Linked DNA regions of Homo sapiens: region 1 is linked to region 2. Evidence: fine-mapped expression QTL. A gene starts in region 2. The other region holds a variant in brackets. All regions are shown on one strand. Distances are between the middles of the regions.

What was found.
Region 1: its variant is fine-mapped to the expression of ZNF341 in whole blood (TOPMed, PIP above 0.99).

What each region holds. Positions count from the first base shown.
Region 1 is chr20:33,784,756-33,799,338 of GRCh38, forward strand. ZNF341 (zinc finger protein 341) reads left to right here. Exons shown (of 15, transcript NM_001282933.2): 13 at 4,108-4,219; 14 at 4,763-4,833; 15 at 6,233-7,514. The coding sequence ends at 6,762. ZNF341-AS1 (ZNF341 antisense RNA 1) reads right to left here. Exons shown (of 4, transcript NR_110623.1): 2 at 13,163-13,240; 3 at 10,759-10,861; 4 at 2,618-3,022. Among named protein-coding and RNA genes, the nearest start is that of ZNF341-AS1, 19 kb to the right of the region's middle. RefSeq lists a silencer at 922-971 and an enhancer at 7,388-7,682. The variant C/T (reference allele first, on the strand shown) is at 6,314.
Region 2 is chr20:33,725,353-33,739,935 of GRCh38, forward strand. ZNF341 (zinc finger protein 341) reads left to right here and starts at 6,644. Exons shown (of 15, transcript NM_001282933.2): 1 at 6,644-6,700. The coding sequence starts at 6,670. It overlaps LOC124904890 (a long non-coding RNA gene), which reads right to left and starts at 6,631. Exons shown (of 2, transcript XR_007067569.1): 1 at 6,294-6,631; 2 at 3,585-3,809. RefSeq lists enhancers at 6,215-6,274, 6,285-6,344, 8,013-8,716, 8,675-8,754 and a silencer at 6,455-7,164.

The DNA.
Region 1 (14,583 bases), 59 kb after region 2:
AGGCTCCCACCACCATGTCCAGCTAGTTTTTTGTATTTTTAGTAGAAACAGGGTTTTGCCATGTTGGCCAGGCTGGTTTCGAACTCCTGACCTCAGGTGATCCTCCTGCCTCGGCCTCCCAAAGTGCTGGGATGACAGGCGTGAGGCACTGCACCCAGCCTGTGTGAGGGACTCTTGACTCTGCCCCCTGTGGTGGGGACACTGCTCTCACTGTAAGTTCCCACTCAAACCTGAACAAAACGCCATCTCCTTGGTTCCCCAGTTGAAACACACTGACATTTTCTTTTCTATTAATCTTTAGATTTTTTTATTAGTTAAATTTTTTAATTGCTTTTTAATTGAAAAGGATCTAAAGATTGAGAAAACTTGAGGGAAAATCCTTGACGGGACAAAAGCATATATAAAAAAATAAACTCCCTCTCACTTCAGATGGACAATCCAATGTTTTTCCTTTTTTTTCTTTCCTACGACCTATGGTAAAAAATACATTTCATATTGCAACCCAGGAAGCACACATAGGATGTATTGCAACAAAAGTTTTACAAAACAGTGTTTTCTATTTTGTCCTTTTCAATTTTAGTTTTTTTATTTTTTATTTTTATTTTGAGACAGGGTCTCACTCTGTCACCCAGGCTGGAGTGCAATGGTATGATCTCACTACAACCTCCGCCTCCCAGGTTCAAGCCATTCTCGTGCCTCAGCCTCCCGAGTAGCTGGGATTACAGGCGCCCACCACATGCCTGGCTAATTTCTGTATTTTCAGTAGAGACGGGGTTTCACCATGTTGGCCAAGATGGTCTCAAACTCCTGGCCTCAGGTTACCCACCCACCTTGGCCTCTCAAAGTGCTGGGATTACAGATGCAAGCCACCACACCCAGCCTATTTTTAATTCTTAAAATAACCACCAACAGGGTGTAACTTGTGGTTTGCAGTTTGCAAAATACTCCTAATTCTCTTCCCCAAAGGTAACTGTTAGCGGTCTAGTCTGCATTCTTCTAGTTTTATTTTACACATATATAAAACGCTTGCTTACGTTTGCAAAAATGAGCACATACTATAACTTATGTGCCTTTTTTTCCTTATCATATACCTTGGCGATGTTCCCCAAGGAATGTGTGCTTACAGTTCCCCTGGAGGCTAAATTCTGTGGGTCCCCCTCCCCCGGGCCCCCCCCAGAAGTTGTTACCAACAGCACCTTCTTTTTCACATCTGAGTAGTCTTCCTCAATGAATTTTTCATCTTGTATTTAGCCAGTTCTCTATGTATGAACCTTTTTTTTTTTTTTTTTTTTTTTTGAGACTGAATGGCACGATCTTGGTTCACTGCAACCTCTGCCGCCTGAGTTCAAGCAATTCTCCTGCCTTAGCCTTCCAAGTAGCTGGGATTACAGGTGTGCACCATCACGCCCAGCTAATTTTTGTATTTTTAGTAGATATGTGGTTTCACCATGTTGGCCAGGCTGGTCTCGAACTCCTGACCTCAAGTGATCCCCCCGCCCCAGCCTCCCAAAGTGCTGGGATTACAGGCATGAGCCATCACGCCCAGCCTATGTATGAACCGTTAAATTACATTTCAGCTATTAGTTTGTACACACAATGCTGTGTGGGTCCCTTGGCAAGCTTTTGGAAGTGTATCTGTAGTGTATATTCTTAGGAGTGGAAATGCTAGGTTAAAATGCATGTGTAATACTGAGTTTCAGTTTGGGATGATGAAAAAATTCTAGAGACAGATGATGGTGATGGTTGCATGATGGTGCAAATGTACTTATGCCACTGAACTATACACTTAAAAGAAGCTTAAGATGGTCAATTTTCTGTTATGTATATTTCTCCACAATAAAGAAGGGAAAAGAAGTAATGCATTGTAAGTTTGATATTACCAAATTGCTCTTTATGGCTTTTAAAAATTATTATTCAAAAGTAATACATGCTGCCAGGCGCGGTGGCTCATGCCTGTAATCTCAGCACTTTGGAAGGTGAAGGTGGGTGGAGCACCTAGGTCAAGAGTTTGAGACCAGCCTGGCCAACGTGATGAAACCCCGTCTCTACTAAAAATACAAAAATTAGCCGGGTGTGGTGGTACGCACCTGTGATCCCAGCTACTCAGGAGGCTGAGGCAGGAGAATTGCCTGAACCCAGGAGATGGAGGTTGCAGTGAGCCAAGATCAAACCACTGCACTCCAGCCTGGGCAACAGAGCAAGACTCTGTTTCAAAAAAAAAAAAAAAAATACAAAAAACGAAACAAAACAAAACAAAAAAAACCACACAAATAATACATGGTTATTATAAAAATGGAAACAATATAGGAGTACATAAAGTAAAATGTTAAATTTCCCCTTCAAGTTGTAGTTGCCACTGACACTTTGGTCTGTCCTTTCCCTACACCTCCCCATCTTTCTTCCTGCATCTTCAGTTTATTTACAGAGACACATGGCCAGGGCTTTTTTGGGGTGTGCAGGTTGTATTTTTTCTTTCTTTTTTTTTTGTTGGAGCTTACATATCCAGTAGGGATTATATTTTTTTCTAAGAAAGACGAGATTGTGTTAAGCTGTTCTACTGCTTTCTTTCCCCACTAGCAGTATGTCCAGGAGATCTTTCCAGATCAGGAAACACAGATTGACCTTTTTAATCTTTTTAATGACCACAGAGCATTCTATTGTAGGGACCAGCATTTCCGTATCGACTGGGTTGATGGTTTTTCAGAAGTACTTTATTCATTCCAGAGGGAGAACAGAGAGGAAATAATGGCAGGAAGTCACAGCAGCCCAGAAACAGCCCCTTCCAAAGGGCAGGCTGTGACCCCACGGCAACTTTGCAGGCACCTCCCTTGATTTCCTGTGGGTTCCTCAGGTAGCCCATCAGGCAAGAGCTGCCCCAGGACGGGTTTAACAGCAGGAAGATCTGGGTAGCTCAGATGGGCTCTGGATCACGCTGCTGGGCTGGAATCTTAGCTCCCGCAACCATAGGGGTAGCCCCTGAGCCAGTCCCTTCACCTCTCTGAACTTCAGTCTTCTTTCTTATCTGTGAAACAGGGATGATGGGAGTCAGTGCCTCCTGGTTTTTTGGAAGGATTCAGTTAGATAAGGTGTGATTCCTCGTCCCCCAGGGTGGACCGCATTGCCAGAAATGACATGAGGCCACCTTGCTTCTCAGGCCGTGCCTCATCCTTGACTCCTCTCCTCCTCTCACAGTCACAGCCAGTCCAGTGGCAAGGGCTGCCGACTGTGCCTTCCCAACATGGCTGTCCTGGGCCACTTCCTGGTTATCCTCACCTCCACCCTCATTCGAGCTGGTTAAAAGCTTACATCAGAGTCCATCCCTCTGCTGTTCAGACCTTCTGGTGCTTCTCTTCTGGCTCAGAGTAAAAGCCAAAGTCCTGGCTGGGCGCGGTGGCTCATGCCTGTAATCCCAGCACTTTGGGAGGCCAAGGCAGGTGGATCACTTGAGGTCAGGAGTTCGAGACCAGCCTGGCCAACATGGTGAAACCCCCCATCTCTACTAAAAATACAAAAATTAGCTGGGCGTGGTGGCACACACCTGTAATCCCATCTACTCAGGAGGCTGAGGTAGGAGGATTGCTTGAACCCAGAAGGCAGAGGTTGCAGTGACTCACCTGAAATCTTGCCACTGCACTCCAGCCTGGGTGACAGAGCAAGGCTCTGTCTCAAAAAAAATAAATAAATAAAAGCCAAGTCCTTAGCTCTGCCTCCCAGGTCCTCCCATGCGGACCTGGCTGGCTCGCTGCCCTCACCTTCTGCCTTGTTCTCTGGCCACACCAGCCTCCCTGTTGTTCATCAGCACCGCCAAACGCACTCCTGCCTCAGGGCCTTTGTACCTGCTTTCCCTGCTGCCCAGACCATCTCCCTGATGACCTGAGGTCTCTCCTCATGCATGGCCTCATCAGAGAGGCCTCTCCTGACCATCCTGTCAAAATAGCCCTGTCTTGTCTCTGGCAAAACAAAGCCACTGAAGAATGAGAGAGGCTATTTTCTCCCCTGGCCACCTCCCTAGAGGAGCTGCTCCCCTGAGGGGCCCAGCGGGGACCCTTGTGCCCTGGATGCCGACTCCTGGTGAGTGCTGGCTCTCCCTGTCTGTGTCTGCTGCAGGTGAGAAGCCCTACAAATGCTCAGTGTGCGAGTCTGCGTTCAACCGCAAGGACAAACTGAAGAGACACATGTTGATCCACGAGCCCTTCAAGAAATACAAATGCCCTTTCTCGTGAGTAGAGACTGCCATGCAGGGGGGTGGGTAGCGGGACAGATTCTCCAGGGGTGCTGCTGGGGAGGGTGGGACAGATGTCAGGCCTGAGGGCAGGCCTCTCCTTTTTTTTTTTTTTGGAGACATAGTCTCACTCTGTCATCCAGGCTGGAGTGCAGTGGTAAGATCTTGTCTCACTGCAACCTCTGCCTTCTGGGTTCAAGCGATTCTCTTGCCTCGGCTTCCCAAGTAGCTGAGATTACAGATTTAGTAGAGATGGAGTTTCGCCATGTTGCCTAGGCTGGTCTCGAGCTCCTGACCGCAAGTGATCCATCCACCTCGGCCTCCCAAAGTGCTGAGATTACAGGCGTGAGCCACTGTGCCTGGCCAGGCCTCTCTCCTTTTATCCTGTCCTGGGCCCTGCCTGCCTCACTTCCCACCCTACCTCCTTGCCCAGCCCTTAGGGTGGACAAGGCTGTCCCTTGTGCCCAGGGCTAGTGGAGGGGCCAGCAAGAGGATCCTAAGCTTGGTGAGCTCCCCCTGACCAGTGGCTTTGGGTTTTAGGACGCACACAGGCTGCAGTAAGGAGTTCAACCGGCCGGACAAGCTGAAGGCCCACATCCTCTCCCACTCTGGTAAGTGGCTCTTGGGCCTGCTAAGAGGGTCTGGTTCAGCTCTAGTTCACTGGGATAGACCCGCCAGGAAGAGAAAGAGCAGACATATCCTGTGAGGCTTGTTTTCCCTGCCTGGCACATTCCAGCCAGCACTTTCACTTATGTGGGCTATGAGCCAGGCCTGTGTTAGGGACTTAAGGGTGAACAGAGATGAATCAGACACAGTCCCCCAGTCCAAGGAGGAAGCTGACCTGAGCAGAGATGACTCAGTTGGAGCAGTGCCCAGTGTAATAGAGGTGTGGACGAGGTGTGGAGGGAATCAGATTCCAGCCAGGTCCAAGACATGGCCAGGAAGCTTCTTTGATAGGGCAGGGCAGGGGTCTCCAAGCCACTCCTCAGTTTCTCAGCGCCTCCTCAGAGCAGCCTGGCTGGCTTTCCACATGCCAGCCGAGGTCTAAAACAAGGTTCTTCAACCCTGGCACCATTGACAATTTGGGCCAGATAATTTTTTTTTTTTTTTTTTGAGACGGAGCCTCCCTCTGTCACCCAGGTGGAGTGCAGTGGTGTGATCTTGGCTCATTGCAACCTCTGCCTCCCAGGTTCAAGCGATTCTCTTGCCTCAGCTTCCCAAGTAGTTGGGATTACAGGTGCCTGCCACCACACCCAGCTAATTTTTGTATTTTTAGTAGACATGGGGTTTTCACCATGTTGGCTAGGCTGGTGTCGAACTCCTGACCTCAAGTGATCTGCCCGCCTTGGCCTCCCAAGGTGCTGGGATTACAGGTGTGAGCCACCGGCGCCTGGCCTGTAATCCTGTAGATAATTTTGTCCTGGGGGCTGTCCTGTGCCCTGTAGGATTTTTAGCAGTATCCCTGGCTTCTATCTACTGGTGTCAGTGGCATCCCCCCACAGTTGTGACAACCAAAAATGTCTCTAGGCATTGCTGAGTCCTCTGGGGGGTAAAGTCTCCCTTGTTTGAGAAGGTTTACAGAAAGGAGTCAGTCACTAAAGAAAGTGTGAAAACTGGGAGAGTAGGTCAATGACTTGGACACACAGGGCTGGGTTGGAGTCTTAGTGCTGCCATGTTCCTGTGGGTGGCCTCAGGCGTCACGGCCCCTCCCTGAGCCTGAGATGACCTGGCAAAGCGAGCCAAGGTGCAGAGAGTGAGCAGCTGTTCCAGGCAGAGGAGAATGGCAAGTACAAAGGCGCAGAGGGAGGAGCCAGCGTGGCATCTCTGAGGAGAGCGAGTGTGGCTGGCGCAGAGAGTGGCTGGAAGAAGGCAGACGACGAGGGTGGAGAGAGCTGGGGCCAGATCACACAGGTGCTGGTGGGGAAAGAGCCTGGATTTTATTCCCAGCGCAGGGCACTGTTGCGGGGTGAAGGTCTGGATGCTTCTCACTGACTTTCCCTTGCCCTCCAGGCATGAAGCTCCACAAATGCGCCCTGTGCAGCAAGTCCTTCAGCCGCCGTGCCCACCTCGCCGAGCATCAGCGCGCCCACA[C/T]GGGCAACTACAAGTTCCGCTGTGCTGGCTGCGCCAAGGGCTTTTCCCGCCACAAATACCTCAAAGATCACCGCTGTCGTCTCGGCCCCCAAAAGGACAAGGACCTGCAAACCCGGCGGCCCCCCCAGAGGAGGGCAGCCCCCCGCAGTTGCGGCAGTGGTGGGCGCAAGGTGCTGACCCCCTTGCCTGACCCGCTGGGGCTGGAGGAGCTGAAGGACACAGGGGCTGGGCTGGTGCCCGAGGCTGTCCCCGGCAAGCCGCCCTTCGCAGAGCCGGACGCGGTGCTGTCCATCGTTGTGGGTGGTGCGGTGGGCGCGGAAACTGAGCTGGTGGTACCTGGACACGCTGAGGGGCTGGGCTCCAACCTGGCTCTGGCGGAGCTGCAGGCTGGGGCCGAGGGCCCATGTGCCATGCTCGCTGTGCCCGTCTACATCCAGGCCTCCGAGTGACGGACCTGAGGTGTCTGTTTCCTGGGCAGGCCTGATGCTCCTGTTTGGGTCCAGGGCCCCTGGGGGCAGACCGGTGATCCTTACCAGTGGAAGCGAGCCATCGAGCCATTGGCAGAAATCCTGCTGAATGTCATTCAGAAACCTCAGCCCATGGTCGCCCTCCTGTGCCCCTCTCCTGCCGGAAAGCCCTGCAACATTCTAGGGTTGGGGGCAGGGCCATCCACGGTTTCTGGGCAGAGCCATGGTGGCAGGAGAGAGATGGCTGAAGCCTGAGCAGCCCAGAGTCCCGCTGGTCTAGGCTGGTGGTCGGGGCCCCTGGGAGAGGAGACAGGGCATTCCTCCCCACTCTGTCTCCAGGCTGCCTCTGGGTAGCCTCTAGTCTGCTGTTCTTCAGGAGGCCTGCCATAAACTCTTCGGAGTTTACGTGTTGCACCTTTTCACAGACGGTTCCCCACAGCATCCTCAGACAGCTCTGTGATGTAGCTTTTAGGAGGCACTCAGGTGTCACGGCTAGACTGCAGCTATGAGACAGATCTGGCTTCAAATCCAAGAGTTGCCATGCACTTGCTGTGTGACCTTGGGCAAGTCACTTCACTTCTCTGAGCCCCGTGTTCCTCATCTGTACAATGGGGCTTACGATACTACTACCTCATAGGGTTGTCCTGGGGATCCAGTATGATGAAGTGCGCCAGGGGCTTGGCATGGTGCCCGGCACGCAGAAAGTGCTCAATAAATGTTTTTGTCATAACGTGTCCGGGTGGCCTGGGCCAAGCTGTGGCAGTTTCCTTCTTTGCCCCTAGGTGGCAGCACTCCCCCTCTGAAGCTTGTGGTGGCTGAGGGGTCCCAGGCCCCTCACACAGGGAGCCCTGGAGAGATGATAAGGGAAGCAAGGCTGGGCACGGCAGCTCATGCCTGTAATCCCAGCACTTTGGGAGGCCAAGGTGGGCTGATCACCTGAGATCAGGAGTTTGAGACCAGTCTGGCCAACATGGCAAAACCTCGTCTCTAGTAAAAATACAAAAATTAACCGGGTGTGGTGGTGCACACCTGTATTCCCAGCTACTTGGGAGGCTGAGGCGGGAGAATCACTTGAACCCAGGAGACAGAGGTTGCAGTGAGCTGAGATCGTGCCACTGCACTCCAGTGTGGGAGACAGAGTGAGACCCTGTCTCAAAAAAAAAAAAAAAAAATTAGCTGGGCATGGTGGTGGGTGCCTGCAGTCCCAGATATGCTGGAGGCTAATGTGGGAGGATCACTTGAGCCCAGGAGGTTGAGGCTGCAGTGAGCTGAGATTGTGCCACTGCATTCCAGCCTGGGCAACTGAGCAAGACCCTGTCTCAAAGATTTAAAAAAAAAGAAAAGAAACGAAAAAAAAGAAAGGAAATTGGGAACACCCATCCACAGAAAACAGTCCAGGACAACACCCCATGGGGGTCGGGGTTTGTACTCACTTGTGGGAATTCAGGATAGTTAGCCACCTCCAAATCCGTTGTAAACAAGATCAGAAATCCCTCTCGTGTCGGCATCTGGAGGCCATCAATGTCACCGCGTCCAGTGCTTCCTCCTACCTCTCAGCTGGTCCCGGTGGGAGGTGGACCGGGCTCATGAGGAGGCGGGAAGGAGAAAAGGGCCTTGACTAGTGTTTTCCTGTTTATCTTCACAGCCACCCTTCTGGGCTGTTGGACTCCATTTGATGACTGAATTGTTTTGAAGGCTGGCAGGTCCCTCAGGCATCTGTGTTGGATCTCAGGGCTGGAACTCAGAGCCAGGCCCAGCTTCCCACATCCTCAGGAAGGGTGTGACGCGGCAGGAGGGACAGAGTTGATGGGGGTGAGGTGTGTAAGTGTACCGGCCTGCACAAAGGCCCGAGGGGGACTGGTGGGGACAGGAAGTCAGAGGGGATGCCCCTGGAGCTGGGCCTTGGCCCGGGGTGCTTTGATGGGTGGATGGATAGGGGAAGGTGTGCTGGGTGAGAGCAGGGCGCGTGCAAACACCTTGGGGTGGGACAGTGCCAGGCCTGCTATGTTCTGGGGCCGGCGGATGTTCCAGGGTGACCAGAGGTCTCAGAGGAGTAGGTGGATAATGATCATGGCTGTTGCTTCACCTTCTCCACACGAGGGACACTGTGCCAGGCTATTTACAGTCACGTCGCCTCAGCCTGTCATGTGAGTGCTGTTACTTTCTGTATTTTACAGCTGAGAAAACCCAGGCCCAGAGGGGTAAACTTCCTTACCCAAGCTCACACAGCCAGGAAAGCTGCAGAGCTGGGACTCAAGCCACGGCAGCCTGCCTCCATGGGTTCTTAGCCACTTTCCACGATTGAAGTGTGGGTTGATGAATCAGAGAGGGCCTTAGATGTGGGTTAAGGAATCTGGACTTTATTCTCCACATAATGAAGGGGAGTCATGGGAGACAGTGAACATTTTTAAAAGTTGTAACAATGGCATTGAAAGAAATGTGAAGAACGACATCTTCAGCCGGGTGTGGTGGCTCACTCCTATAATCCCAGCACTTTGGGAGGCCGAGGCGGGTGGATCACCCGATGTCAGGAGTTTGAGACTATCCTGGCCAACATGGTGAAACCCCATCTCTACTAATAATACAAAAAAATTAGCTGGGCGTGGTGGCACATGCCAGTAATCTCAGCTACTTGGGAGGCTGAGGCAGGAGAATCGCTTGAACCCGGGAGGCAGAGTTTGCAGTGAGCTGAGATCCCGTGACATTGCACTCCAATCTGGGTGACAAGAGTGAAACTCCATCTCAAAAAAAGAAAAAAAAATGACATCTTCTTCCTAATATAACTATTTAAGTGGTTTTTCTATAGCTTCTTCCTGTCAGTGCACACAGGCATACACGTCTACTGGTAATCACGAGAACTAACATTTATTAGTTATCGAATGAATGCCTGGCACCATCCCCAGCACCTCAATGTAGGCACTACTTTTAAGCCCATTTTGCAGCTGAGATGAGGCAACAGGCACATTAAGGTTAAGCAGCCCAAAGTCACACAGGAGGGAAGTAGCAGAGCCAAGCCACAGATAAGGACATACCAAGATCAGCTATAATGTTTAACAGAAAGTTGGTGACAAATCCCAGCACTTTGAGAGGCCGAGGCAGGCAGATCACGAGGACAGGATATCAAGACCATCCTGGCTAACATGGTGAAACCCTGTCTCTACTAAAAATACAAAAAATTAGCCAGATGTGGTGGCCCTGGAGCTGGTCCCAGCTACTTGGGAGGCTGAGGCAGGAGAATCGCTTGAACCTGGGAGGCGGAGGTTGCAGTGAGCCGAGATCATGCCACTGCTCTCCAGCTTGGGGGAGAGCAAGACTCTGTCTCATTAAATAAATAAATAAATAAATAAATAAATAAATAAATAATAAAAAAGAAAGTTGGAGATAGCTGCTCCAGGACCCCAGGGTCTGCCACCGAACTCCAAGATGCTGGACAGAGTGGAGCATAAAAAGGGGCTGGCCTAGGCATCCAGGGTCTCACTCCACCCCCAGAAAGATCACAGTTTTTTTACCGGGTGTGGTGGCTCACTCCTGTAATCCCAGCACTTTGGGAGGCCAAGATGGGCGGATCACCTGAGGTCAGGGGTTCGAGACCAGCTTGGCCAACATGGCGAAACCCCATCTCTACTACAAAAAATTAGCCATTCGTGGTTGCATGTGCCTGTGATCCCAGCTACTTGGGAAGCCAAGGCAGGAGAATTTGTAGAATCCGGGAGACGGAGGTTGCAGTGAGCCGAGATCTCACCATTGCACTGCAGCCAGGGTGACAGAGTAAACTCATGGACAGACTCTTACTCTAAGAGTAAACTCTGTCTCAAAAAAAAAAAAAAAAAAAAAGAGAAAGATTACAGTCTTTGGTATCAAGCAGAGCTGGGTTTGAATTCTGGCTCTGCCCCCTCCTAGCTGTGTGACTATGGCGAGTCACTTCACCTTTCTGAACCTCAGTTTCCTTGTGTCAGTGTGGAGAATAATAGTACCTACCTGGCGAGGTTGATGTCACAATTCACGGAAATAATTCAGGTAAAGCAGAGATCACAAATTGGCCGCTCATGGCAGCCTCCAGACAGTTTGGCATTCACAGTGTCTGAAAAAGTAAGCCAACGTTTAAAAACAAATTTAAAATATACTACAGTGGTGAAGTGTCAGGAATGACACAAGGATGCCTGCTGTTATGACTCCAATATTACATTAGTGGCCTGGCCAGAATAATAGAGCAAGAAAAAGAAATAAATAGTATCAGGATTGGAAAGGGTGAGATAATAGCAAGGGTGCTGAAATAATAGCAAGATCAATATATACAAATCTACTATGCTCCTATACTCCAGAAGCAATTAGAAAATGTAAAAAATTGGGACATTTGGGCCAGGCGTGGTGGCTTACACCTGTAATCCCAGAACTCTGGCAGGCTGAGGTGGGTGGATCATGAGGTCAGGAGATTGAGACCAACCTGGCCAACGTGGCAAAACCCTGTCTCTACTAAAAAATACAAAAAATTAGCCGAGCATGGTGGTGCGTGCCTGTAATCCCAGCTACTCAGGAGGCTGAGGCTGGAGAATCACTTGAACTGGGGAGGTGAAGGTTGCAGTGAGCTGAGATCATGCCACTGCACTCCAGCCTGGGCAACGGAGTGAGACTCTGTCTCAAAATAAATAAATAAATATATAAATAAACAAAAAAACTCATTTCCTCTGATAAGTTTTCCTTGGCCAATCTGTGTAACATAGCCCCACCTCCATCATTCTCGAATTCCTTACCCTATTTTATTTTTATACGTCACCCTTGACATTATATTAGACATTTGTTTATTGTCTGTTGTCCTCATTAGAAACAAAAGGTCCACAAAGGCATCGACTTTTGTCTGTTTTGTTCCTGAAGTATCTACAGTGCTTAGACCTTCCCAGGAATTGTTCAATCAATATTTGTCGAATGAATAAACAACAGCACTTTGAGAGAAGAAGGCTCACTTTACCCACCCGCTCCTCTCACCCCAGGGAGACCAGAGAATCTGTCATGTAGACCGAGATATGACTGACCCAGGGTCCTGGGAAGTAATGTCTGATATAAAAGGATATCTTCCTTTGTTCAAAGAGGGAGCAGAGAATATCTGGGCCAAATGACTAAGGCAGGTGGCTTGGAAGTCTCGACAGAGCAGGTGGAAGTCGACAGAGCAGGTGTCCCTGTGGCCCAGGGAACTGGTTGGACTAGTTTTGTCTCCTTTGGGGAGGAAGGAGTGGAGGTGGCAGCTACGGGTGCTCCCAACCCCCAAGGCTGCCAGCAAGTGACCCCCCCACACACAAGGCTTTCAGGGCCTGAAGGGTGGTGATCAGGGAGGTGAGCAGGCTCCATCTAAGGATTGGCAGTGACTTCTTACTAGCTGAGGGTGCCTCAGGTAGGCTTAGGCACAGAACCCAACTTTAGGGCCTTGCGTCCTTTGAAGAATCACAGAGAATAAACAGGCCCAGGGAGAGAAAAGGTCTTGTCCAAAGTCTCATCAAGGCAAGGCTGCTTCCCAGGCCACTGCTACCTCAGTCCACTTATTTATTGATTAAATATTTCTTGAGTACCTATGACGTGCCAAGCATAGTTCTTTGATGATACATCATGAGCAAAACAATCATTTGTGGAGATCCTTTGTGGAGGAAGCAGAAGATAAACAACAAAGTAAATAAGTAAGTTATAGATGTTAGGAGGTGACGAGGACTATAGAGAAGGAAAAAAAGTAGAGGTGAGTAGAGGTTTTGAGAGTTTGGAGGGTGCTGGTGTGTTTGAGGAAGAGTAGAGGGGCCAGTGTGATTGGAGTGAGGCACTGGAAAGGGGGAGGGCAAGGAGGTGACAGGAAAATCATGACATCATGTAGGGACTTGAGGGACATTGAAAGGACTTTGGGTTTTACTTGAGGGACGTGGAGAGCCATTGGAGGATTGTGAGCATTCAGTGACTGGATCCGACATACATATGTATGTCCAGTGTCAAAACATATATATGTGTGTGTGTGTACATATATGTATATATATATGTGTGTGTATATATATATGTCAGATGTCAAAAAAATATATATATATAATTTTTTTTTTCCTGAGACAGAGTCTCTCTCTGTCACCCAGGCTGGAGTGCAGTGGCGTGATCTCAGCTCACTGCAACCTCCAACTCCCAGATTCAAGCGATTCTCGTGCCCCTGCCTCCTGAGACTACAGGTGCATGCCACCATGCCCAGCTAATTTTTGTATTTTTAGTAAAGATAGGGTTTCACCATGTTACCCAGGCTGGTCTTGAACTCCTGGCCTCAAGTGATCCGCCTGCCTCGGCCTCCCAAAATGCTGGGATTATAGGGATGAGCCACTGTGCCCAGCCAAACACATATTTTTTAAAGGATACCTCTGCTTACCATGTAGAGAATGAGCTGGAAGGAATAAAGATGGAGACAGGAAGGCCAATGAGGAAGAGTATTAGGTTCCTCTTGCTTCTGTAATAAAGAATCAGAAACTTAGTGGCTTAAACCAACACAGATCTTATCACTCTGGAGGTCAGAAGTCTGATATGGTTCCCACTGGACTAAAATCAAGTGTTGGCAGGGCTTTGTCCTTCCGGAGGCTCTAGGGGAGAATCTGTTCCATTGTCTTTTCCGGTTTCTAGAAGCCACCTGCATTCCTTGGCTTGTGGCACCTTTCTCCATTCAAAGGCAGAAGGGCAGCATCCTGCCAGTCTCTGACTCTGAAACCTCTTGCTTCTGTTTTGTGATTACATTGAGGCCAGCTGGATAATCCACAATAAGCTCATCATTTCAAACTCCTTAACACTTCTACAAAGTCCATTTAAGGTGAGATTCTGGGGATGAGGACATGGACGTCTTTGAAGGACCATTATCCTGCCCACCAGGAGGCTACTGCAATAGTGCAGGCAAGAGATGATGGTGGCTTTGACCAGAGTAACCGCAATGAAGATGGTAAGAAATGATAGCTTTCTGGATATATTTTGATGATAGAGCCAACAGGATATTCTAAGGGATTGGATGTGGACTTTTCCTTCCTCGTGCAGGTAGACTTCTAGTCTACCTGTGCCTTGGGCCTGCGCCTGGGTGAGGATGAGGGTTTCCCTGGGGTAAAGTCCAGGGAGTCACAGTCATTGACTGGAGCCTGTGTGGCCGTCTAGGGCCTGCTGCATGGCCTGCATGTGGTCAGACAAATGGGTATGGAGTAGGCCCTGTAACCCACCATTAGCACAAGTGTAGGGTCCTTTCTGGTCAACAGTTTCACCCACCTCCCCCTCACTCCTCACTTAACCCCTCAAGTTCTGCTGGGTTGGGCCTTTCCTGCCCCCATCGCTTACTTTGCCCCACTCCCCTGGGAGGTGAGACCTGCTCCCAGGCCCACCACACTTTATTTATTTACCTGTTTGTAGGTGTGAGTGTCTCTCTGTTCATTCATTATTTGCATGTAGGCAGAATAGCACAGTGGCTAAACTGGTTGCCTTTACAGTAAGAATCCCAGCTCTGCCTCCTACAAGTGTGTGATCTTAGGCAAGCTGTCCAACCTCTGTTAATGTATAAAATGGGAACAATAAAGCCTACCTCATATAGTTGTTGTGTGGGCTAAATGAGGTAATGCATGTAAAATCCTCGGCTCAGTGTCTGGCTTAGCATAAAGTGCTGATGAAGATTCTCTGTTATTTTCTCACGGTTCAAGTGCCAACCAGTCCACTCAATAATGGTGTGATCTTCGGCAAGTTATTCAACCTCTCCAAGCTTCTGTTTCCTCAGCTGTAATCTGTAACTACCTCATAGAACTATAGTTGGATGATTAAATGAGA
Region 2 (14,583 bases):
CCACTGTGCCTGGCCGGACCTCGTTTAACCTTAATTAGCTCTTTATTTATTTATTTATTTATTTATTATTTGAGACAGAATCTTGCTCTGTCACCCAGGCTGGACTGCAGTGGCGCATCTGCCTCCCGGGTTCAAGTGATTCTCTTGCCTCAACCTCCCGAGTAACTGCGATTACAGGTGCGCGCCACCATGCCCAGCTAATTTTTGTACTTTTAGTAGAAACAGGGTTTCACCATGTTGGCCAGGCTGGTCTTGAACTCCCGACCTCAGCTAATCCACCCACCTCAGCCTCCCAAAGTGCTGGGATTACAAGCATGAGCCATCGCACCCGGCCCCTTAATTAGCTCTTTAAAGACTCAGGTTACAGTTACATTCTGAGGTACTAGGGGCTAGGACATCAACGTATGAATTTTGTGGGGAAGACACAATTCAATCCATAACAGCCACATGCTTTGCTGCTTACTACCAACACCAACCAACCTAACAAGATGTCAGGACCCAGCATTGCCTTGTGTGTCAGCACATTCTTCCCCTTGTAGCTGGGAGTCTGATTTAAGCATGAGATTCTTCCCTCCCCACAGAGAAGTTAATTTTTCTGGGGTGGCTGGAGCACTCACTGTGGAGTGGGACACTGGACGTTTCCCACTCTCCCTCCTCCCTGCTTGACCCCTTGCCTGGAATTATTACATTACCTACCCCAGGAGTCTCTAAGCTGTGATTGGATTCTGTTCGGTGCCAACCAGGTAGCCCCAAGGGAACTGGACATGTGACTGATAAGTGTTTGGTGGATGAAGAGATGCCAGTAAGGGGTGGAAAGTTTGGAGTGGGGGCAGCCTGACTGGGGAGCCTGCCAGAGGTGGGGCTCTACCTCCCTGAAACTCATTCAGTTCCATCGGTCAAGCCTTCAGTGAAGCATTTCCCAAGTTGCCTCTGTGCCAAGCCCTGGGGTCCAATTTGTGTGTGTGGGGGTGGTGGTGGGGTTCTTTTTTGAGATGAAGTCTTGCTCTGTAGCCCAGATCTCAGCTACAGGTAGCTGAGACAACAGGTATACTACAGGCATATGTGGCTCATATCTCAGCTTGCTGCAACCTCTGCCTCTTGGGTTCAAGCGATTCTCCTGCCCCAGCCTCCCAAGTAGCTGGGATTACAGGCATGCGCCATCATGCCTGGCTAATTTTTGTATTTTTAGTAGAGACACAGTTTGAGACAAGAGTCTTGTCTGGTCTTGAACTCCTGACCTCAGGTGATCTGCCCACCTGGGCCTCCCAAAGTGCTGGGATTACAGGTGTGAGCCATGGCGCATGGCCAAGCTCCTATTGTTGCAGGCGTTTCAGCAGGAGAGAACAGCATATGCAATATGCATCTATGCAACAGCATAGATGAAAATCTACTCTGCATATGCACCTGGTGGTATGGAAATATATGGGAAGCTGGCCAGGCACAGTGGCTCACATCTGTAATCCCAGCACTTTGGGAGGCCGAAGTGGGTGGATCACGAGGTCAGATCGAGACCATTCTGGCTCACACAGTGAAACCCCGTCTCTACTGAAAATACAAATACCCATACATCACTTATTACTCTCAGCTGCCCCTTTACAGTTCTTGGCCTCTTTTCATTTTGGCCTCAGGGCCTTTGCACTTGTTGGTCTCTCTGCCTTTCTCTTCTCTTTTCACATTGCTGACTCCAGCTTATTTCTCAGGCCCACTTCCTCAGACAGACTCCCCCTGACCATTCTGTCTAAAAGTAGCTTCCCCTCTTTCTGGAAAAAAAGTATTTAAAGTCATAGAAAATTTCTCTCTTTCTCTTTTTTTTTCCCCTTGTTTACAGCCCATCTCACCTAGCTAGACTAAGACTCCATGAAGGCAAGGATTTTTGTCTTTTGGTTCATGCCTGCATCCGCAGCATCTAGAATGGTGTCTAGCACACAGTAGGTGCTCAACAAATATTTTGAAAGTAATCAAATAAATGTGAACATATTCATTTCTTATTTGAATAATAAAACTAAAACAGGCCGGGCGTGGTGGCTCACGCCTATAATCCCAGCACTTTGGGAAGCTGAAGCAGGCAATTGCCTGAGCTCAGGAGTTCGAGGCCAGCCTGGCCAACATGGTGAAACACTGTCTCTGCAAAAAATACAAAAATTAGCTGGGCATGGTGGCAGGCACCTGTAGTCTAAGATACTTGAGAGGCTGAGGCACGAGAATCTCTTGAACCCGGGAGGTGGAGGTTGCAGTGAGCAGAGATTGGCCACTGCATTCCAGCCTGGGCAACACAACATGACTCTGTCTCAAAAAACAAAAAATAATAAATAAATAAATAAAACAAAAACAATAGGTATACTTTGCAGGCTTTGGTGATGCAGACAAACAAAGAATAGTTATATGGAGAAACTTGCAGGGGAGAGGGGAGAATCTGAGGCCATTGGATCAGTGAGCATGTTAGAGACAGGGAGGAAGGAACCCTGACTTTACCCTGCCAGCAAGGCAATGGAAGGGGGCGCTCACAGCTTGGGGTGTGCCCTTCAAGATTCCCAGGAAGGTAGGTGGGGTGTGGTGTCTTGGAGAAGAGTGGATTTCCTCTTTTTTCTTTTTCTCCTTTTTGTGGAGAATGGGGTCTCACTGTGTTGCCCCAGCTGGTCTTGAACTCCTAGGCTCAAGCGATCCTCCAGCCTCTGCCTCCCTAAATGCTGGGATGACAGGCTTGAGCCACTGCCCCTGGCAGGTTGGGTTTTCTGTGGGGAACATTTGCTCAGGGCTCACTGTGCAGGGGGGAATGGGAAGGGAAATGGAGGTAAGGGGGTAGCAGTGGTGTGCACAGGGGTGGTGTTCAGGGAAGTACAAGGAGTTCACCGGCAGAAATGGGCCTTGAGGGGGTAAATAGGCAGAGAGTCTGTGAGGCTATTCTGTGAAAGGGCCATATATACAAAGTGGTCCCCAAATGCCAACGGAGCCAAAAAACCAAGGAATGAGGCAGACAAATTCAGTTTGTCAGTAAAGGGTGTTTTAATGGGGGATCTTAAAAGCAGCATGGGCTTGGGCGGCAGCAAGACAGGAGATCTCTCCCTCTGTTACCCCAAGACTTAGGCCTTATATTCCACAGGGAAAGAGTTTTAAGTGCTCTCTGCAAGACAATTAAAGGAAACTTCCAGAGCAGACAAGAATGCTGTATGTTTCATAGCTTATAATTTATGCAATAACATCAGGGCGGCATATAGCTTATAATTTGTGCAATAACATCAGGCTGACTAGGGACAGTAAATAAAGTAGGAATCAGGAGGCATTCACGGGACTGGGGCTAATCAGAAGTCAACATGGGGGATTAGCATCCAAGATGGAGTCACTTTTGTCTCCACAGAGACAACTTGTCAGGAACAGTGGCTAGCAGGGTTCCCCAAGGGGAGAGGAACTTTGAAAAAACAATTTTAAAAAATTGTAGTTCACAGGTCTCAAACTCCTGGGCTCATGCAGTCCTCCTGCCTTGGCCTCTCAAAGTGCTAGGCTTAGAGCAGTGCGCCACCATGCCCAGCTGCAAACAAATAATTTTTAATTGTAGGAGTTATATAGTGAATACAAGAAAATGAAAATTATGATATTTGTTATTTATTTAGCTGAGGCTAAAATAGGTATTTTAGTAAAACCAATGAGAACATTTAGAGTCCAATCCATGGTTGTCCCGTTGTATGACGATGTGGCCATGATCATGGGAGAGATTCATGATTGATGGTGACAAAGATTCTTTGCTTGCTGTAACTGCTTGGTCAGACTTTGGAATCTTCTGCTAGGCCCACCTGTGCACTTCTTTGTAAAATCTAGTTTTCACAAAGAATGCTTTAAGTCAGTTTAGCAGGAACCCCCATCCTTAATATTTAATCATCCTAGATATCTGATCAGGTTCCTCATCTGTCACCATCTCCTAGGTGATGTTGATTACCCTAGCCCATCTTCAGCAAGAATCCTGTTAGGTCGGTTTAGCCAGAATTCCCCTTACCTCCGATGTTTCCTCTTGGTAATTTTCTATCAACTGACCTCCCTACCCCCAGCCCCCATGATGTTCCTCGGCTATAAATTCCCACTTGCCTATGCTGTATTCAGAGTTGAGCCCAGTCTCTCTCCCCCACTGCAAGGCCCCTTTGTAGTGGTACCTATCGCAGTAGTTCTGAATAAAGCCTTCCTTATTGTGTTTGTGTTTTAGCAAAGATCATTGAACAATTTTTTTTCTTTTTTTTTTTTTTTTTTTGAGACAGGGTCTCATTCTGTCACCCGGGCTGGCATGCAGTGACATGATCATGGCTCACTGCAGCTTTGACTTCTCTGGCTCAAGAAATCCTCTCACCTCAGCATCCCTACCTAGTAGCTGGGATTATAGGTATGTGCCACATACCTGGCTAATATTTTTAAAAATCATTTGTGGAGATGCTGGTCTGACTATGTTACCTGGGCTGGTCTCCAATTTCTGGGCTCAAGCAATCCTCCCGCCACCTCAGCCTCCCAAAGTGCTGGGATTACAGAGGAGCCACCACACCCAGGTAAATAATTTTTTCTTTTTCTTTTTTTTTTTAAATTTGAGATGGAGTTTTGCTTTTGTTGTCCAGGCTGGAGTGCAGTGGCGTGATCTCGGCTCACCGCAACCTTCGCCTCCCGGGTTCAAGCAATTATCCTGCCTCAGCCTCCCGAGTAGCTGGGATTATAGGCATGTGCCACCATGGCCACCTAATTTTATTTATTTATTGTTTTTAAGTAGAGACGGGGTTTCTCCATGTTGGTCAGGCTGGTCTCAAACTCCCGACTTCAGGTGATCTGCCCACCTTGGCCTCCCAAAGTGCTGGGATTACAGGCGTGAGCCACTGTGCCCGGCCTAATTTTTTCTTTAACAATAGCCCCTTCCTTAGTTTCCCCCTCCCCTCTATGCACTCCCTAAACTCTTGCTTGTTTCCCAAGGGTACTTTGAAACCACTATCACACATTGATTATTGAGAAAGGGTCTCACTCTGTTGCCTAGGCTTGAGTGCAGTGGTGAGATCATAGCCCACTGCAGCCTCTACTTCCTAGGCTTAAGCAATTCTCCTGCCTCAGCCTCCTGAGTAGCTGGTACTCAAGTGCAAACCACCATGCCCAGCTACTTTTGTTGTTGTTGTTGAGACGGGGTCTCACTATGTTGCTCAGACAGGTCTCAAACTCCTGGATACAAATGATCCTCCAGCCTCAGCCTCCCAAAGTGCTGGGATTACAGGTGTGAACCACTGTGGCCGGCATACACATTGTAATTAAATAACCTTTAAGATTTAATGTCGGTCTTTTTTTTTTTTTTTGAGACAGAGTCTTGCTCTGTCGCTAGGCTGGAGTCTGTGGCACGATCTCGGCTCACTGCAACCTCTGACTCCCTGGTTCAAGCAATTCTCCTGCCTCAGCCTCCCAAGTAACTGGGATTACAGGCACGTGCCACCATGCCCAGATAATTTTTATATTTTTAGTAGAGACGGGGTTTCACTAGGTTGGCCAGGATGGTCTCGAACTCCTGACCTCGTGATCCGCCTGCCTCGGCCTCCCAAAGTGCTGGGATTACAGGCATGAGCCGCCGCGCCTGGCCTAATGTCGGTCTTTCTTCCCACCTCTAACTCCATGGGAAAGGACCACCATGTCTCTAGAGCTATTACGGGACTTGGTGCATAGCAGGCCGTTAATAAGCAGTTGATGGAGGATGAATGAAGATGAGAGGGGTCTGTGTGTGTAGGGGAAGTCCCAGTGAGGAGCACCTCTCATTCTGTGAGACCTGGATAGGACCCCTCGGAGGCTGGGCTAGGAGTGGCTGGGGTGGGTGTTGGGGGTTTATGTGACAGAAATGGGGTCCCAACAAGCAGGGATGGAGGGTGAAGAGATGGAGTTACTTAAGAGATAATGGGATCCCCAGCACGGAGACCCACGCCTGTAATCCCAGTGCTTTGGGAGGCCGAGACGTGAGGATCGCTGGAGGCCAGAAGTTGACACCAGCCTGGACAAAATAGTGAGACCCTGATCTCTACAAAAAAATAAAAATAAAAATTAGTAGGACATGGTGGCGTGTGCCGGTAGTCCCCGCTACTCTGGAGGCTGAGGCGGGCTCCCAACAGGCAGAGTTGAGCAGGGTAGTAGGGGCGGGAAGTCTCTAATAGGGGATGAGGGATGGGAATCTATGTTGTACAGCCTGGAGATCCCTGTGACAGTTGGGTGGTCTGGGTGAGATGGGATAGGGGTCATGGTTTGTTGCAGAGTCGGGGTATACTGTGCTCAGCGGAAATGGGGTCCGTGCAGCAGACCTGGAGGACTCACGTGCTGTGGGAATGGGGGATTCTGTGTCAGAGCTGGGGGGTCGGGTCCGGTGAGATGGGGATGCGGATTTAGATAATAGGGATGGGAAGTTCCGCGTGTGCGGCGGATATAAGGTCGGTGTAGACTTGGTCGTTCAAGTGAGGCGGGGTCCACACTCGGTGGCCCGGTGACTGGGTTATCGAGTGGAGCCAGGGCAGCCCAGAGATGCTGGGGTCCCGCGAGCCTAGGTTGGGTTTCCAGGGCTGGGGGCTCGGCGGCGGCTCCTGGGCGCCCCCTGGCGGCCCCGACTCAACCGCCACGGCTCCCACAATGCTCGCGTAGCCGGGCTTCGGTTCCTGTGGCGGCGACGGCGGCGGCTCCAAGATGGCGCAGGCGATCTTTGAGGCCCTGGAGGGTGAGCGGCGGCGGGGCCGGCGGAGGCGGCTGTTCCGCGCTGCGCCCCCTCCCGCCGCGCCCTCGCAGCGCCCGGCCTAGGGCGCGCAGCGGCCGCGGGGCGGAGGGCGCCGGGGCTGGAACAGCCGCGGGGCGGGAGGGGCGCGGGCGGGAACAGCGCGGGAGCCGAGGCCCGGCGGGGGAGCTCCGGGGCCGGAACAGCCGGGGAGAGCCAGGCCGGCGGGGAGGGGGCTCGGGTCCGGAACAGCGCCAGCCTGGGCGGCCTTGGGCGGGCGCGGGAGGGGCTCCCTGCAGGGAACTGCGCGGGAGGCGACGGCGGGGCGGTCTGGAACAGCCGCGGCCAGGGAGGCGGCTTGGCGGCGCGCGGGGCCCGGGACGGGGGTGCGGTCGCAGCTGCGGGCAGGAGGGCCTCGGCGGCCTGACCACGAAGAACTTCTGCGGAGCGGACTGTATGCCTCGTGCTAGGACGTAGTCTCAAAATCAGACCACAGCAGCAGAGGCGCCACCTGTGTGCACAGCCTGGACTCAGAGCTTAGGGACCCAAGCCAGCAAACACCTGGCGCCTGCAGTGCGCACCGTGGCCGGTGCAGTTTTACAAATTAAACTGACACCGTGGGTGCTGGCGCGGTGTGCCCGGCCGGGACGCGGTGTTCCCAGACCCAGGCCAGCAAACGCTGGGTGCCGACAGACTGTTCCGTGCTCTGCAAGAACCTGGGATGGGGTTGGTGCTCAGGCTCAAAACTGTGGGCTTTGGAGACAGCAAACACTGAGCACCTCCATGTGTGCATCTGCTGGGCGTCGGGGAGGAAGGGCAGCCTTAGCGACTCGGGGCCATGGCGCAGAATAGATATTGTGGGAAATACAGACCAAGAATGGTCTTGGAGGAGTGGGATGAGATGAGTATACAGATAGGGTGCAAACTCGAAGTACTGGACTGGCGGGATGAAGCTGAAGCTTTGAGTCCTGCAGCTTCCTAGGAGATCTCAGCCACTCCCTGCACTTTTTAATTTTTTGAGACGGAGTCTCACTCTGTCGCCCAGGCTGGAGTGCAGTGGCGCGATCTCGGCTCACTGCAACCTCCCCCTCCCAGGTTTGAGCGATTCTCGTGCCTCCGCCTCCTGAGTAGCTGGGACTATAGGCGTGCACCACCACACCCGGCTAATTTCCTTTTTTTTTTTTTTTTTTGAGACAGAGTCTTGCTCTGTTGCCCAGGCTGGAGTGCAGTGGAGCGATCTCGGCTCACTGCAACCTCCGCTTCCCGGGGTTCACGCCATTCTTCTGCTTCTTCTGCCTCAGCCTCGAGAGCAGCTGAGACTACAGGCATCCGCCACCACGCCCGGCTAATTTTTTTTTTTTTTTGTATTTTAAGTAGAGACGGGGTTTCACCGTGTTAGCGAGCATGGACTCGATCTCGTGACCTCGTGATCCGCCCGCCTTGGCCTCCCAAAGTGCTGGGATTACAGGCGTGAGCCACCGCGCCCGGCCATTTTTTTGTATTTTTAATAGAGACGGAGTTTCACCATGTTGGCCAGATTGGTCTTGAACTCCTGGCCTCAAGTGATCTGCCCGCCTCAGCCTCCCAAAGTGCTGGGATTACAGGCGTGAGCGACTGCTCCAGGACTCCCTTCACTTCTTGAAGGATCACAATTCGCACCAGGAAATGGGGGGCGGGGTAGCCCTGTCTCCATCTAGTGGGGTTCCGATTCAAAGACTGACTGAGACAGACACTCCCTGTAGTTTCTGCCCTGCAGTCTGGTAGAGGAGAGAAATTATAAAACAAGCAATTATAGAAATTATAGAATTATGGAAAAGGTCATGTAGAATAAGATGACCTCAGCTGGCCATTCCTACTGTGAATAACATAAGCAGGAGGTGGTGGATCAGGAAGGCCGAGGTCAGTGGTAGTTCCCTCCCAGAGGCCAATAGAATGGGGTGAGGCTTACTTTCTCTTTAGGCTGTTTGGACTTCCTCATTGTTTGAATATTTACTGCAAGAATGTGTTTGTGTATTGAGTAATGAAGACAGTTAAAGAGAAATCAGTTCCTAGGACAGTGGGATGCATGTTGGGTGAAGAAAGGGCAGCAGGACTGTGGAGATCTAGGGGAGGAGGGCAGGAGAATGGCCCAGGCAGCAGGAACTGCATTTTCAAAGCCCTGGGGAGAAAGGTCTCCTGGGATTCACAGAAGCTGGGTGTGGGTGAACTGCTAGAGATGGGGTTTGATGGAGCAGCTAAACTTTATCTTGGGATCAGTGTGGAGCTAACAAAAGGTTTTCAGCAGGGGAGCAGCACAATGTGATGTATGTTTTATAAAGTTCACCCTAGCTGCTCTGGAACAGACTGGAGGGGGCCAGAGTGGCAGTGGGGGGTCGGGGTGGAGGCTGCTGAGGTTGTACAGCAGAGAACTGGGCTGGTAAACAACTGTGGGGATGGAAAGACAGTTTATTTGAGATGTATTGGGGAGACAGAATAGGCTAGACTTGCAGAAGAACCAGAAATGGGGAGTGGGGAGGGGGAGCAGTGGGTTGAGGGAAGACCCAAGTGGTGCCGCCCCAGAGGGTGCCCTGGTGCCCTGTTCTCCTTGATGAGGATTACTGGAAGAACAAACTTTGGGGTGGAGGATGACATTTAATTCAAGTTCAGTTTTACACAGGCTGCCTTTTTTTTGTTTTTGAGACAGCATCTCACACTGTCTCCCAGGCTGAAGTGCAGTGGTGCAATCTTGGCTCAATGCAGCCTCCACCTCCTGGGTTCAAGTGATTCTTGTACCTCAGCCTCCCGAGTAGCTGAGACTACAGGCACATGCCACCACGTCTGGCTAATTTTTGTATTTTTAATAGAGAAGGGGGTTTCACCATGTTGGCCAGGCTGGTCTCAAACTCCTGACCTCAAGTGATCCACCCATCTCTGCCTCCCAAAGTGCTGGGATTACAGGCATGAGCCACTGAGCCTGGCCCAGGCTGCCTTTTTAATTTAATTTAACTTAATTTTTTATTTTTTTGTGACACTCTCACTCTGTCACCCAAGCTGGACTGGGGTGGTGCGATCTTGGCTCACTGCAACCTCTGCCTCCCAGGTTCAAGCGATTCTCCTGCCTCAGCCTCTTGAGTAGCTGGGATTACAGGCGCTTACCACCACGCCTGACTAATTTTGTATTTTTTAGTAGAGACGGGGTTTCACCATGTTGGCCAGGCTAGTCTCGAACTCTTGACCTCAAGTGATCTGCCCGCCTTGGCCTCCAAAGTGATGGGATTGCAGGCGTGAGGCACTGTGTCCAGCCAGCCTTTTTTATTTTTATTTGTAGAGACAGGATCTCACTCTGTCTCCAAAGCTGGAGTGCAGTAGTGCATTCATAGCTCACTGCAGCCTCAAACTCCTGGGCTCAAGTGATCCTCCCACCTCAGCCTCCCAGGTGCGTGCCAGGACACCCAGCCAATTTTTTAAATTTTCTAGAGATGAGGTCTTGCTATGTTGCCCAGGTTGATCTTGAACTCCTAGCATCAAGCAGTCCTCCTGCATTGACTTCCCAAAGTGTTAGGATTACAGGCATGAGGCACTGTACCCACCCTGCATTTGTTTAAATTTTTTTATTTTGAAATCACTTTTTCTGTAGATTCACATGCAGTTGTGGGAAATGATAAAGAGAGATCCCACGTGTCCTTGACCCCATTTCCCCTGGTGTAACATTTTGCACAACTACAGTGTGTTACCACCAGTCAACATACAGAACAGGGGCATCACTCCAAGGAGTTGCCCTTTTATAGCCACACCCTAAATCCTCCCCTTCTCCCACCATCCTTGATGCCTGGCAACCACTAATCTGTCTCCATTTGTAAAATTTTGTGATTTCAAGAATACTATATAAATGAAATCATAAAGTGTATACCATTGAGATGGGCTTTTTTCACCCGTCATAATTCCCTAGTGATTCATCCAAGTTGTTGTGTATAGCAATAGTTTGTTCCTTTTTATTGCTTAGTAGTATTCCATAGTATGGCTATTTCACCATTTAACCACTCACTGAAGAACATCTGAACTGTTTCCAGTTTTTACTATTTTTTTTTTTAGACCCTGTCTCAAAAAAAAAAAAAAGTAAAAACTGGAAACAGTTCAGATGTTCTTCTGAACCATTTCCTACACCCTCTATCTCCTCTACTACCTTCTGGCCCTCCTCCCCCACTCTAGTGGGGCTTAAGCCCCCCACCATTCTGAAACTGCCTCTGCAAAAATTGTAACAGTGAGAAAATCATGACAGAGAAAGACGCCTGACCTAACCAATCCCTACCTTGCCTTTAACCTCCAAACTGCCCTTAGTCATCCCCGGGCTTGGGCCAAGCTAACTTCGGCAGAAATTTAATTTACAGTTTAAATGATAATAGCCCTTCCCCAAAACTAAACTGTCTTTGTAAAGCTATTGAAAGACCACCAGGTTTTCACCTGGGCAACATGGGGAGATTCCATCTCAAAGTGTTCACTGTTGCCCAGGCTGGAGTGCAGTGGCATGATCTTGGCTCACTGCAACCTCCACATCCCAAGTTCAAGCGATTCTCCTGCCTCAGCCTCCCGAGTAGCTGGGACTACAGGTGCGTGCCTCCACACCCAGCTAATTTTTTCTATTTTTAGTAGGGACGGGTTTCACCATGTTGCCCAGGCTAAATTTTTTACTGTTATACCTAAAAGTGCTATGAACATTTGTATACAGATTTGCACACAAATGCTAAAACACTCACAATTTTGCATAAAATGGTAGAAGATTCACTGAAGCTTGTTCAGGAGAGCTTGAACCCCAGGCTTGAAACTCCAGATATTGGAAGGAAGTAGACTGGGGTGAGTGAGACTGCCCAGGGACAGCATGAGAGGCAGAGGTGAGAGAGTCCAGACAAAGGAACAAAGGACAAAGTGTTTCCTCAAAATGGAAACACTTAGGGGGTGGCCAGGAGAAGAGAGTAAAGGAGGCACAGAAAGGTAGAGAAGACCCAGGAAGGCTGTGCCCTGGAGCCAAGAACAGAGTGTTTCAGGGAGTGGCAGGTGCTGCCAGATGGTCTTTGGTGATGATGGGGAAAGTGTTTTGGTGGAACTGTAACCATCCAATGGGTTCATTTTGCCTGCTGCCCAGATACAGCCAATTTATCAAGACAGGGGAATTGCGACAGAGAAAAAGTTACATTCACACAGAGCCAGCTGAACAGGAGACTGGAATTGTGTTATTACTCAAATCAGCCTCCTAGAAAATTCAGAGACTAGGTTTTTTATTTTTATTTATTTATTTATTTTTTATTTTTTATTTTTTGAGACGTAGTCTCGCTCTGTTGCCCAGGCTGGAGTGCAATGGCGTGATCTCACCTCACTGCAACCTCCGCCTCCTGGGTTCACGCCATTCTCCTGCCTCAGCCTCCCAAGTAGCTGGGACTGCAGGCACCTGCCACCATGCCCGGCTAATTTTTTATATTTTTAGTAAGGATGGGGTTTTACCGTATTAGCCAGGATGGTCTTGATCTCCTGACCTCATGATCTGCCCACCTTGGCCTCCCAAAATGCTGGGATTACAGGCGTGAGCCACCATGCCCAGCCAGACACTAGGTTTTTTCAAAGATAGTTTGGGGGACAAGGGAATGGGTGCTGTTGATTGGTTGGAGGTGCAATCATAGAGTTGTGGAAAATGGTCCTCCTACATGCAGAGTCTGCTTCTGGGTGGGGCTGCAGGACTCATTGGCGAGTCTACGTGGAGCCATTGGTTGTCAGAAATGCAAAAATCTGAAAAGATATCTCAAAAGGCTAATCTTAGGTTCTATAATAATGATGTTGGGGCCAGGTGCGGTGGCTCACACCTGTAACCCCAGCACTTTGGGAGGTCAAGGCGGGCAGATCACCTGAGGTCAGGAGTTTGAGACCAGCCTGACCAACATGGAGAAACCCTGTCATTACTAAAAGTACAAAATTAGCCAGGCATGGGGGCGTGTGCCTATAATCCCAGCTACTCGGGAGGCTGAGGCAGGAAAGTTGCTTGAACCCGGGAGACAGAGGTTGCAGTGAGCCAAGATTGCGCCATTGCACTCCAGCCTGGGCAACAAGAGTGAAACTCCATCTCAAAAAAAAAAAAAAAAGTTGGCCAGGCGTGGTGGCTCATGCCTGTATTCCCAGCACTTTGGGAGGCCAAGGTGGGAGGATCCCTTGAGTGCAAGAGTTTGAGACTGTCCTGGGCAACATAGGGAGATTCTATCTCAAAATAATAATAATGATAATAATATTATATGCAGGAGTAATTGGGGAAGTTGCAAATCTTGTGATCTCTGGAATAATGGCTGGTAATATTTATGTCTACACCTTACCAGAATGTAGGTTCCTCTTATCCTCCTAACCTCATGGTCTTTCATTAGCTTCACAAAGGAGGGTTAGTTTTGGGGAAGGGCTATTATCATTTAAACTGTAAACTAAATTTCTCCCTAGTTATCTTGGCCCAAGCCCAGGGATTACTAAGGGCAGTTTGGAGGTTAAAGGCAAGATGGGGGTTCGTTAGGTCAGGTGTCTTTCACTGTCATGATTTTCTCACTTTGCAACTTTTTCAAAGGTGGTTCCAGATAGTGGAGGGCTTAAGTCCCACTAGAGTGGGGAAGGAGAACTGGAAGGTGGTAGAAGAGATAGAGGGTGTAGGTGACCCTCATGGGATACTTGCCATTGAAGGGAGGAGAGATGGAAACATGAATTTGCAGGAGGGCACTCTGGAGAGACTGATCGTGTGTAGCTGTGGATGGTTCCCAGGCACAGTGTGGTGAGAGTTGGTGGAGAGTGGCTTCTGAGGAGCAGGAGGAGATGGAGGGGAGGGCTGCGCTGGCAGCGTCAGGAGGGACACAGCCTGCATTGTGACAAGGGAAGGCATGGATTCAGTTTGGCTGCAGTAGCTGATGGTTTCAATTTTTTATTTTATTTTATTTTATTTTTGAGACGGAGTCTCACTCTGTCACCCAGGCTGGAGTGCAGTGGCGCCATCTCCGCTCACTGCAACCTCCACCTCCCGGGTTCAAGCAGTTCTCTGCCTCAGCCTCCCTAGTAGCTGGGATTACAGGCACCCACCACCATGCCCAGCTAATTTTTGTATTTTTAGTAGAGATGGGGTTTCACCATCTTGGCCAGGCTAGTCTTGAATTCCTAACCTCGTGATTCACCCGCCCCTGCCTCCCAAAGTGCTGGAATTACAGGCGTGAGCCACCATGCCCGGCCAGAGATAACTGGTCTGATGGTTTCAATTTGCATTGCAGTTAGAAGCTGGGGAAGACATCCCAGTAAAAGCTGAGAGGTTGGAGGCAGAGCATCGGCTGTGGGGTCATAGAGAGGAGGCACCATCTGGGTCTTTTGGGAGTGGCACAGTGTGCCTTGGTGGCCACTGAGATGTGAGGAGGCCTGTCATCCGGCTAGTGACATGGCCAGACAGTGTACTACTGTGAACTTCAACTGTGATAACTGATTAGAAAACATGGAAGAAGTCAGTTTCTCGATCCCCCAGCCACCAATTCAGAGTCTATTGTTTATTGCAGAACAAAAAAGATAGACACACATTGAGAAATAAGGAAGGCAAGGACGCCCGCGTGCACACAGATTTGTGGGGTTTGGGGAGTGTGCATGAGGAAAACTGGCTAACGTGATTTCTGGAGGGACTTTGTCACCTAGGATTAGCGTCAGCCATGAGTAAGACAGGCCCCACGTCACAGTGGCTTCAACAGGCTGGAAGGTTATTTCTTTCACATGAAAGTCCAGAGGAAGGCAGTCTAAGATAGGAAGATGGCTGTGTTCTACAAGGTTCTCAGAGGCCCAGGATTTATCCAGCTTTTTTTTTTGAGACAGAGTTTCGCTCTTGTTGCCCAGGCTGGAGTGCAGTGGCAGGATCTCAG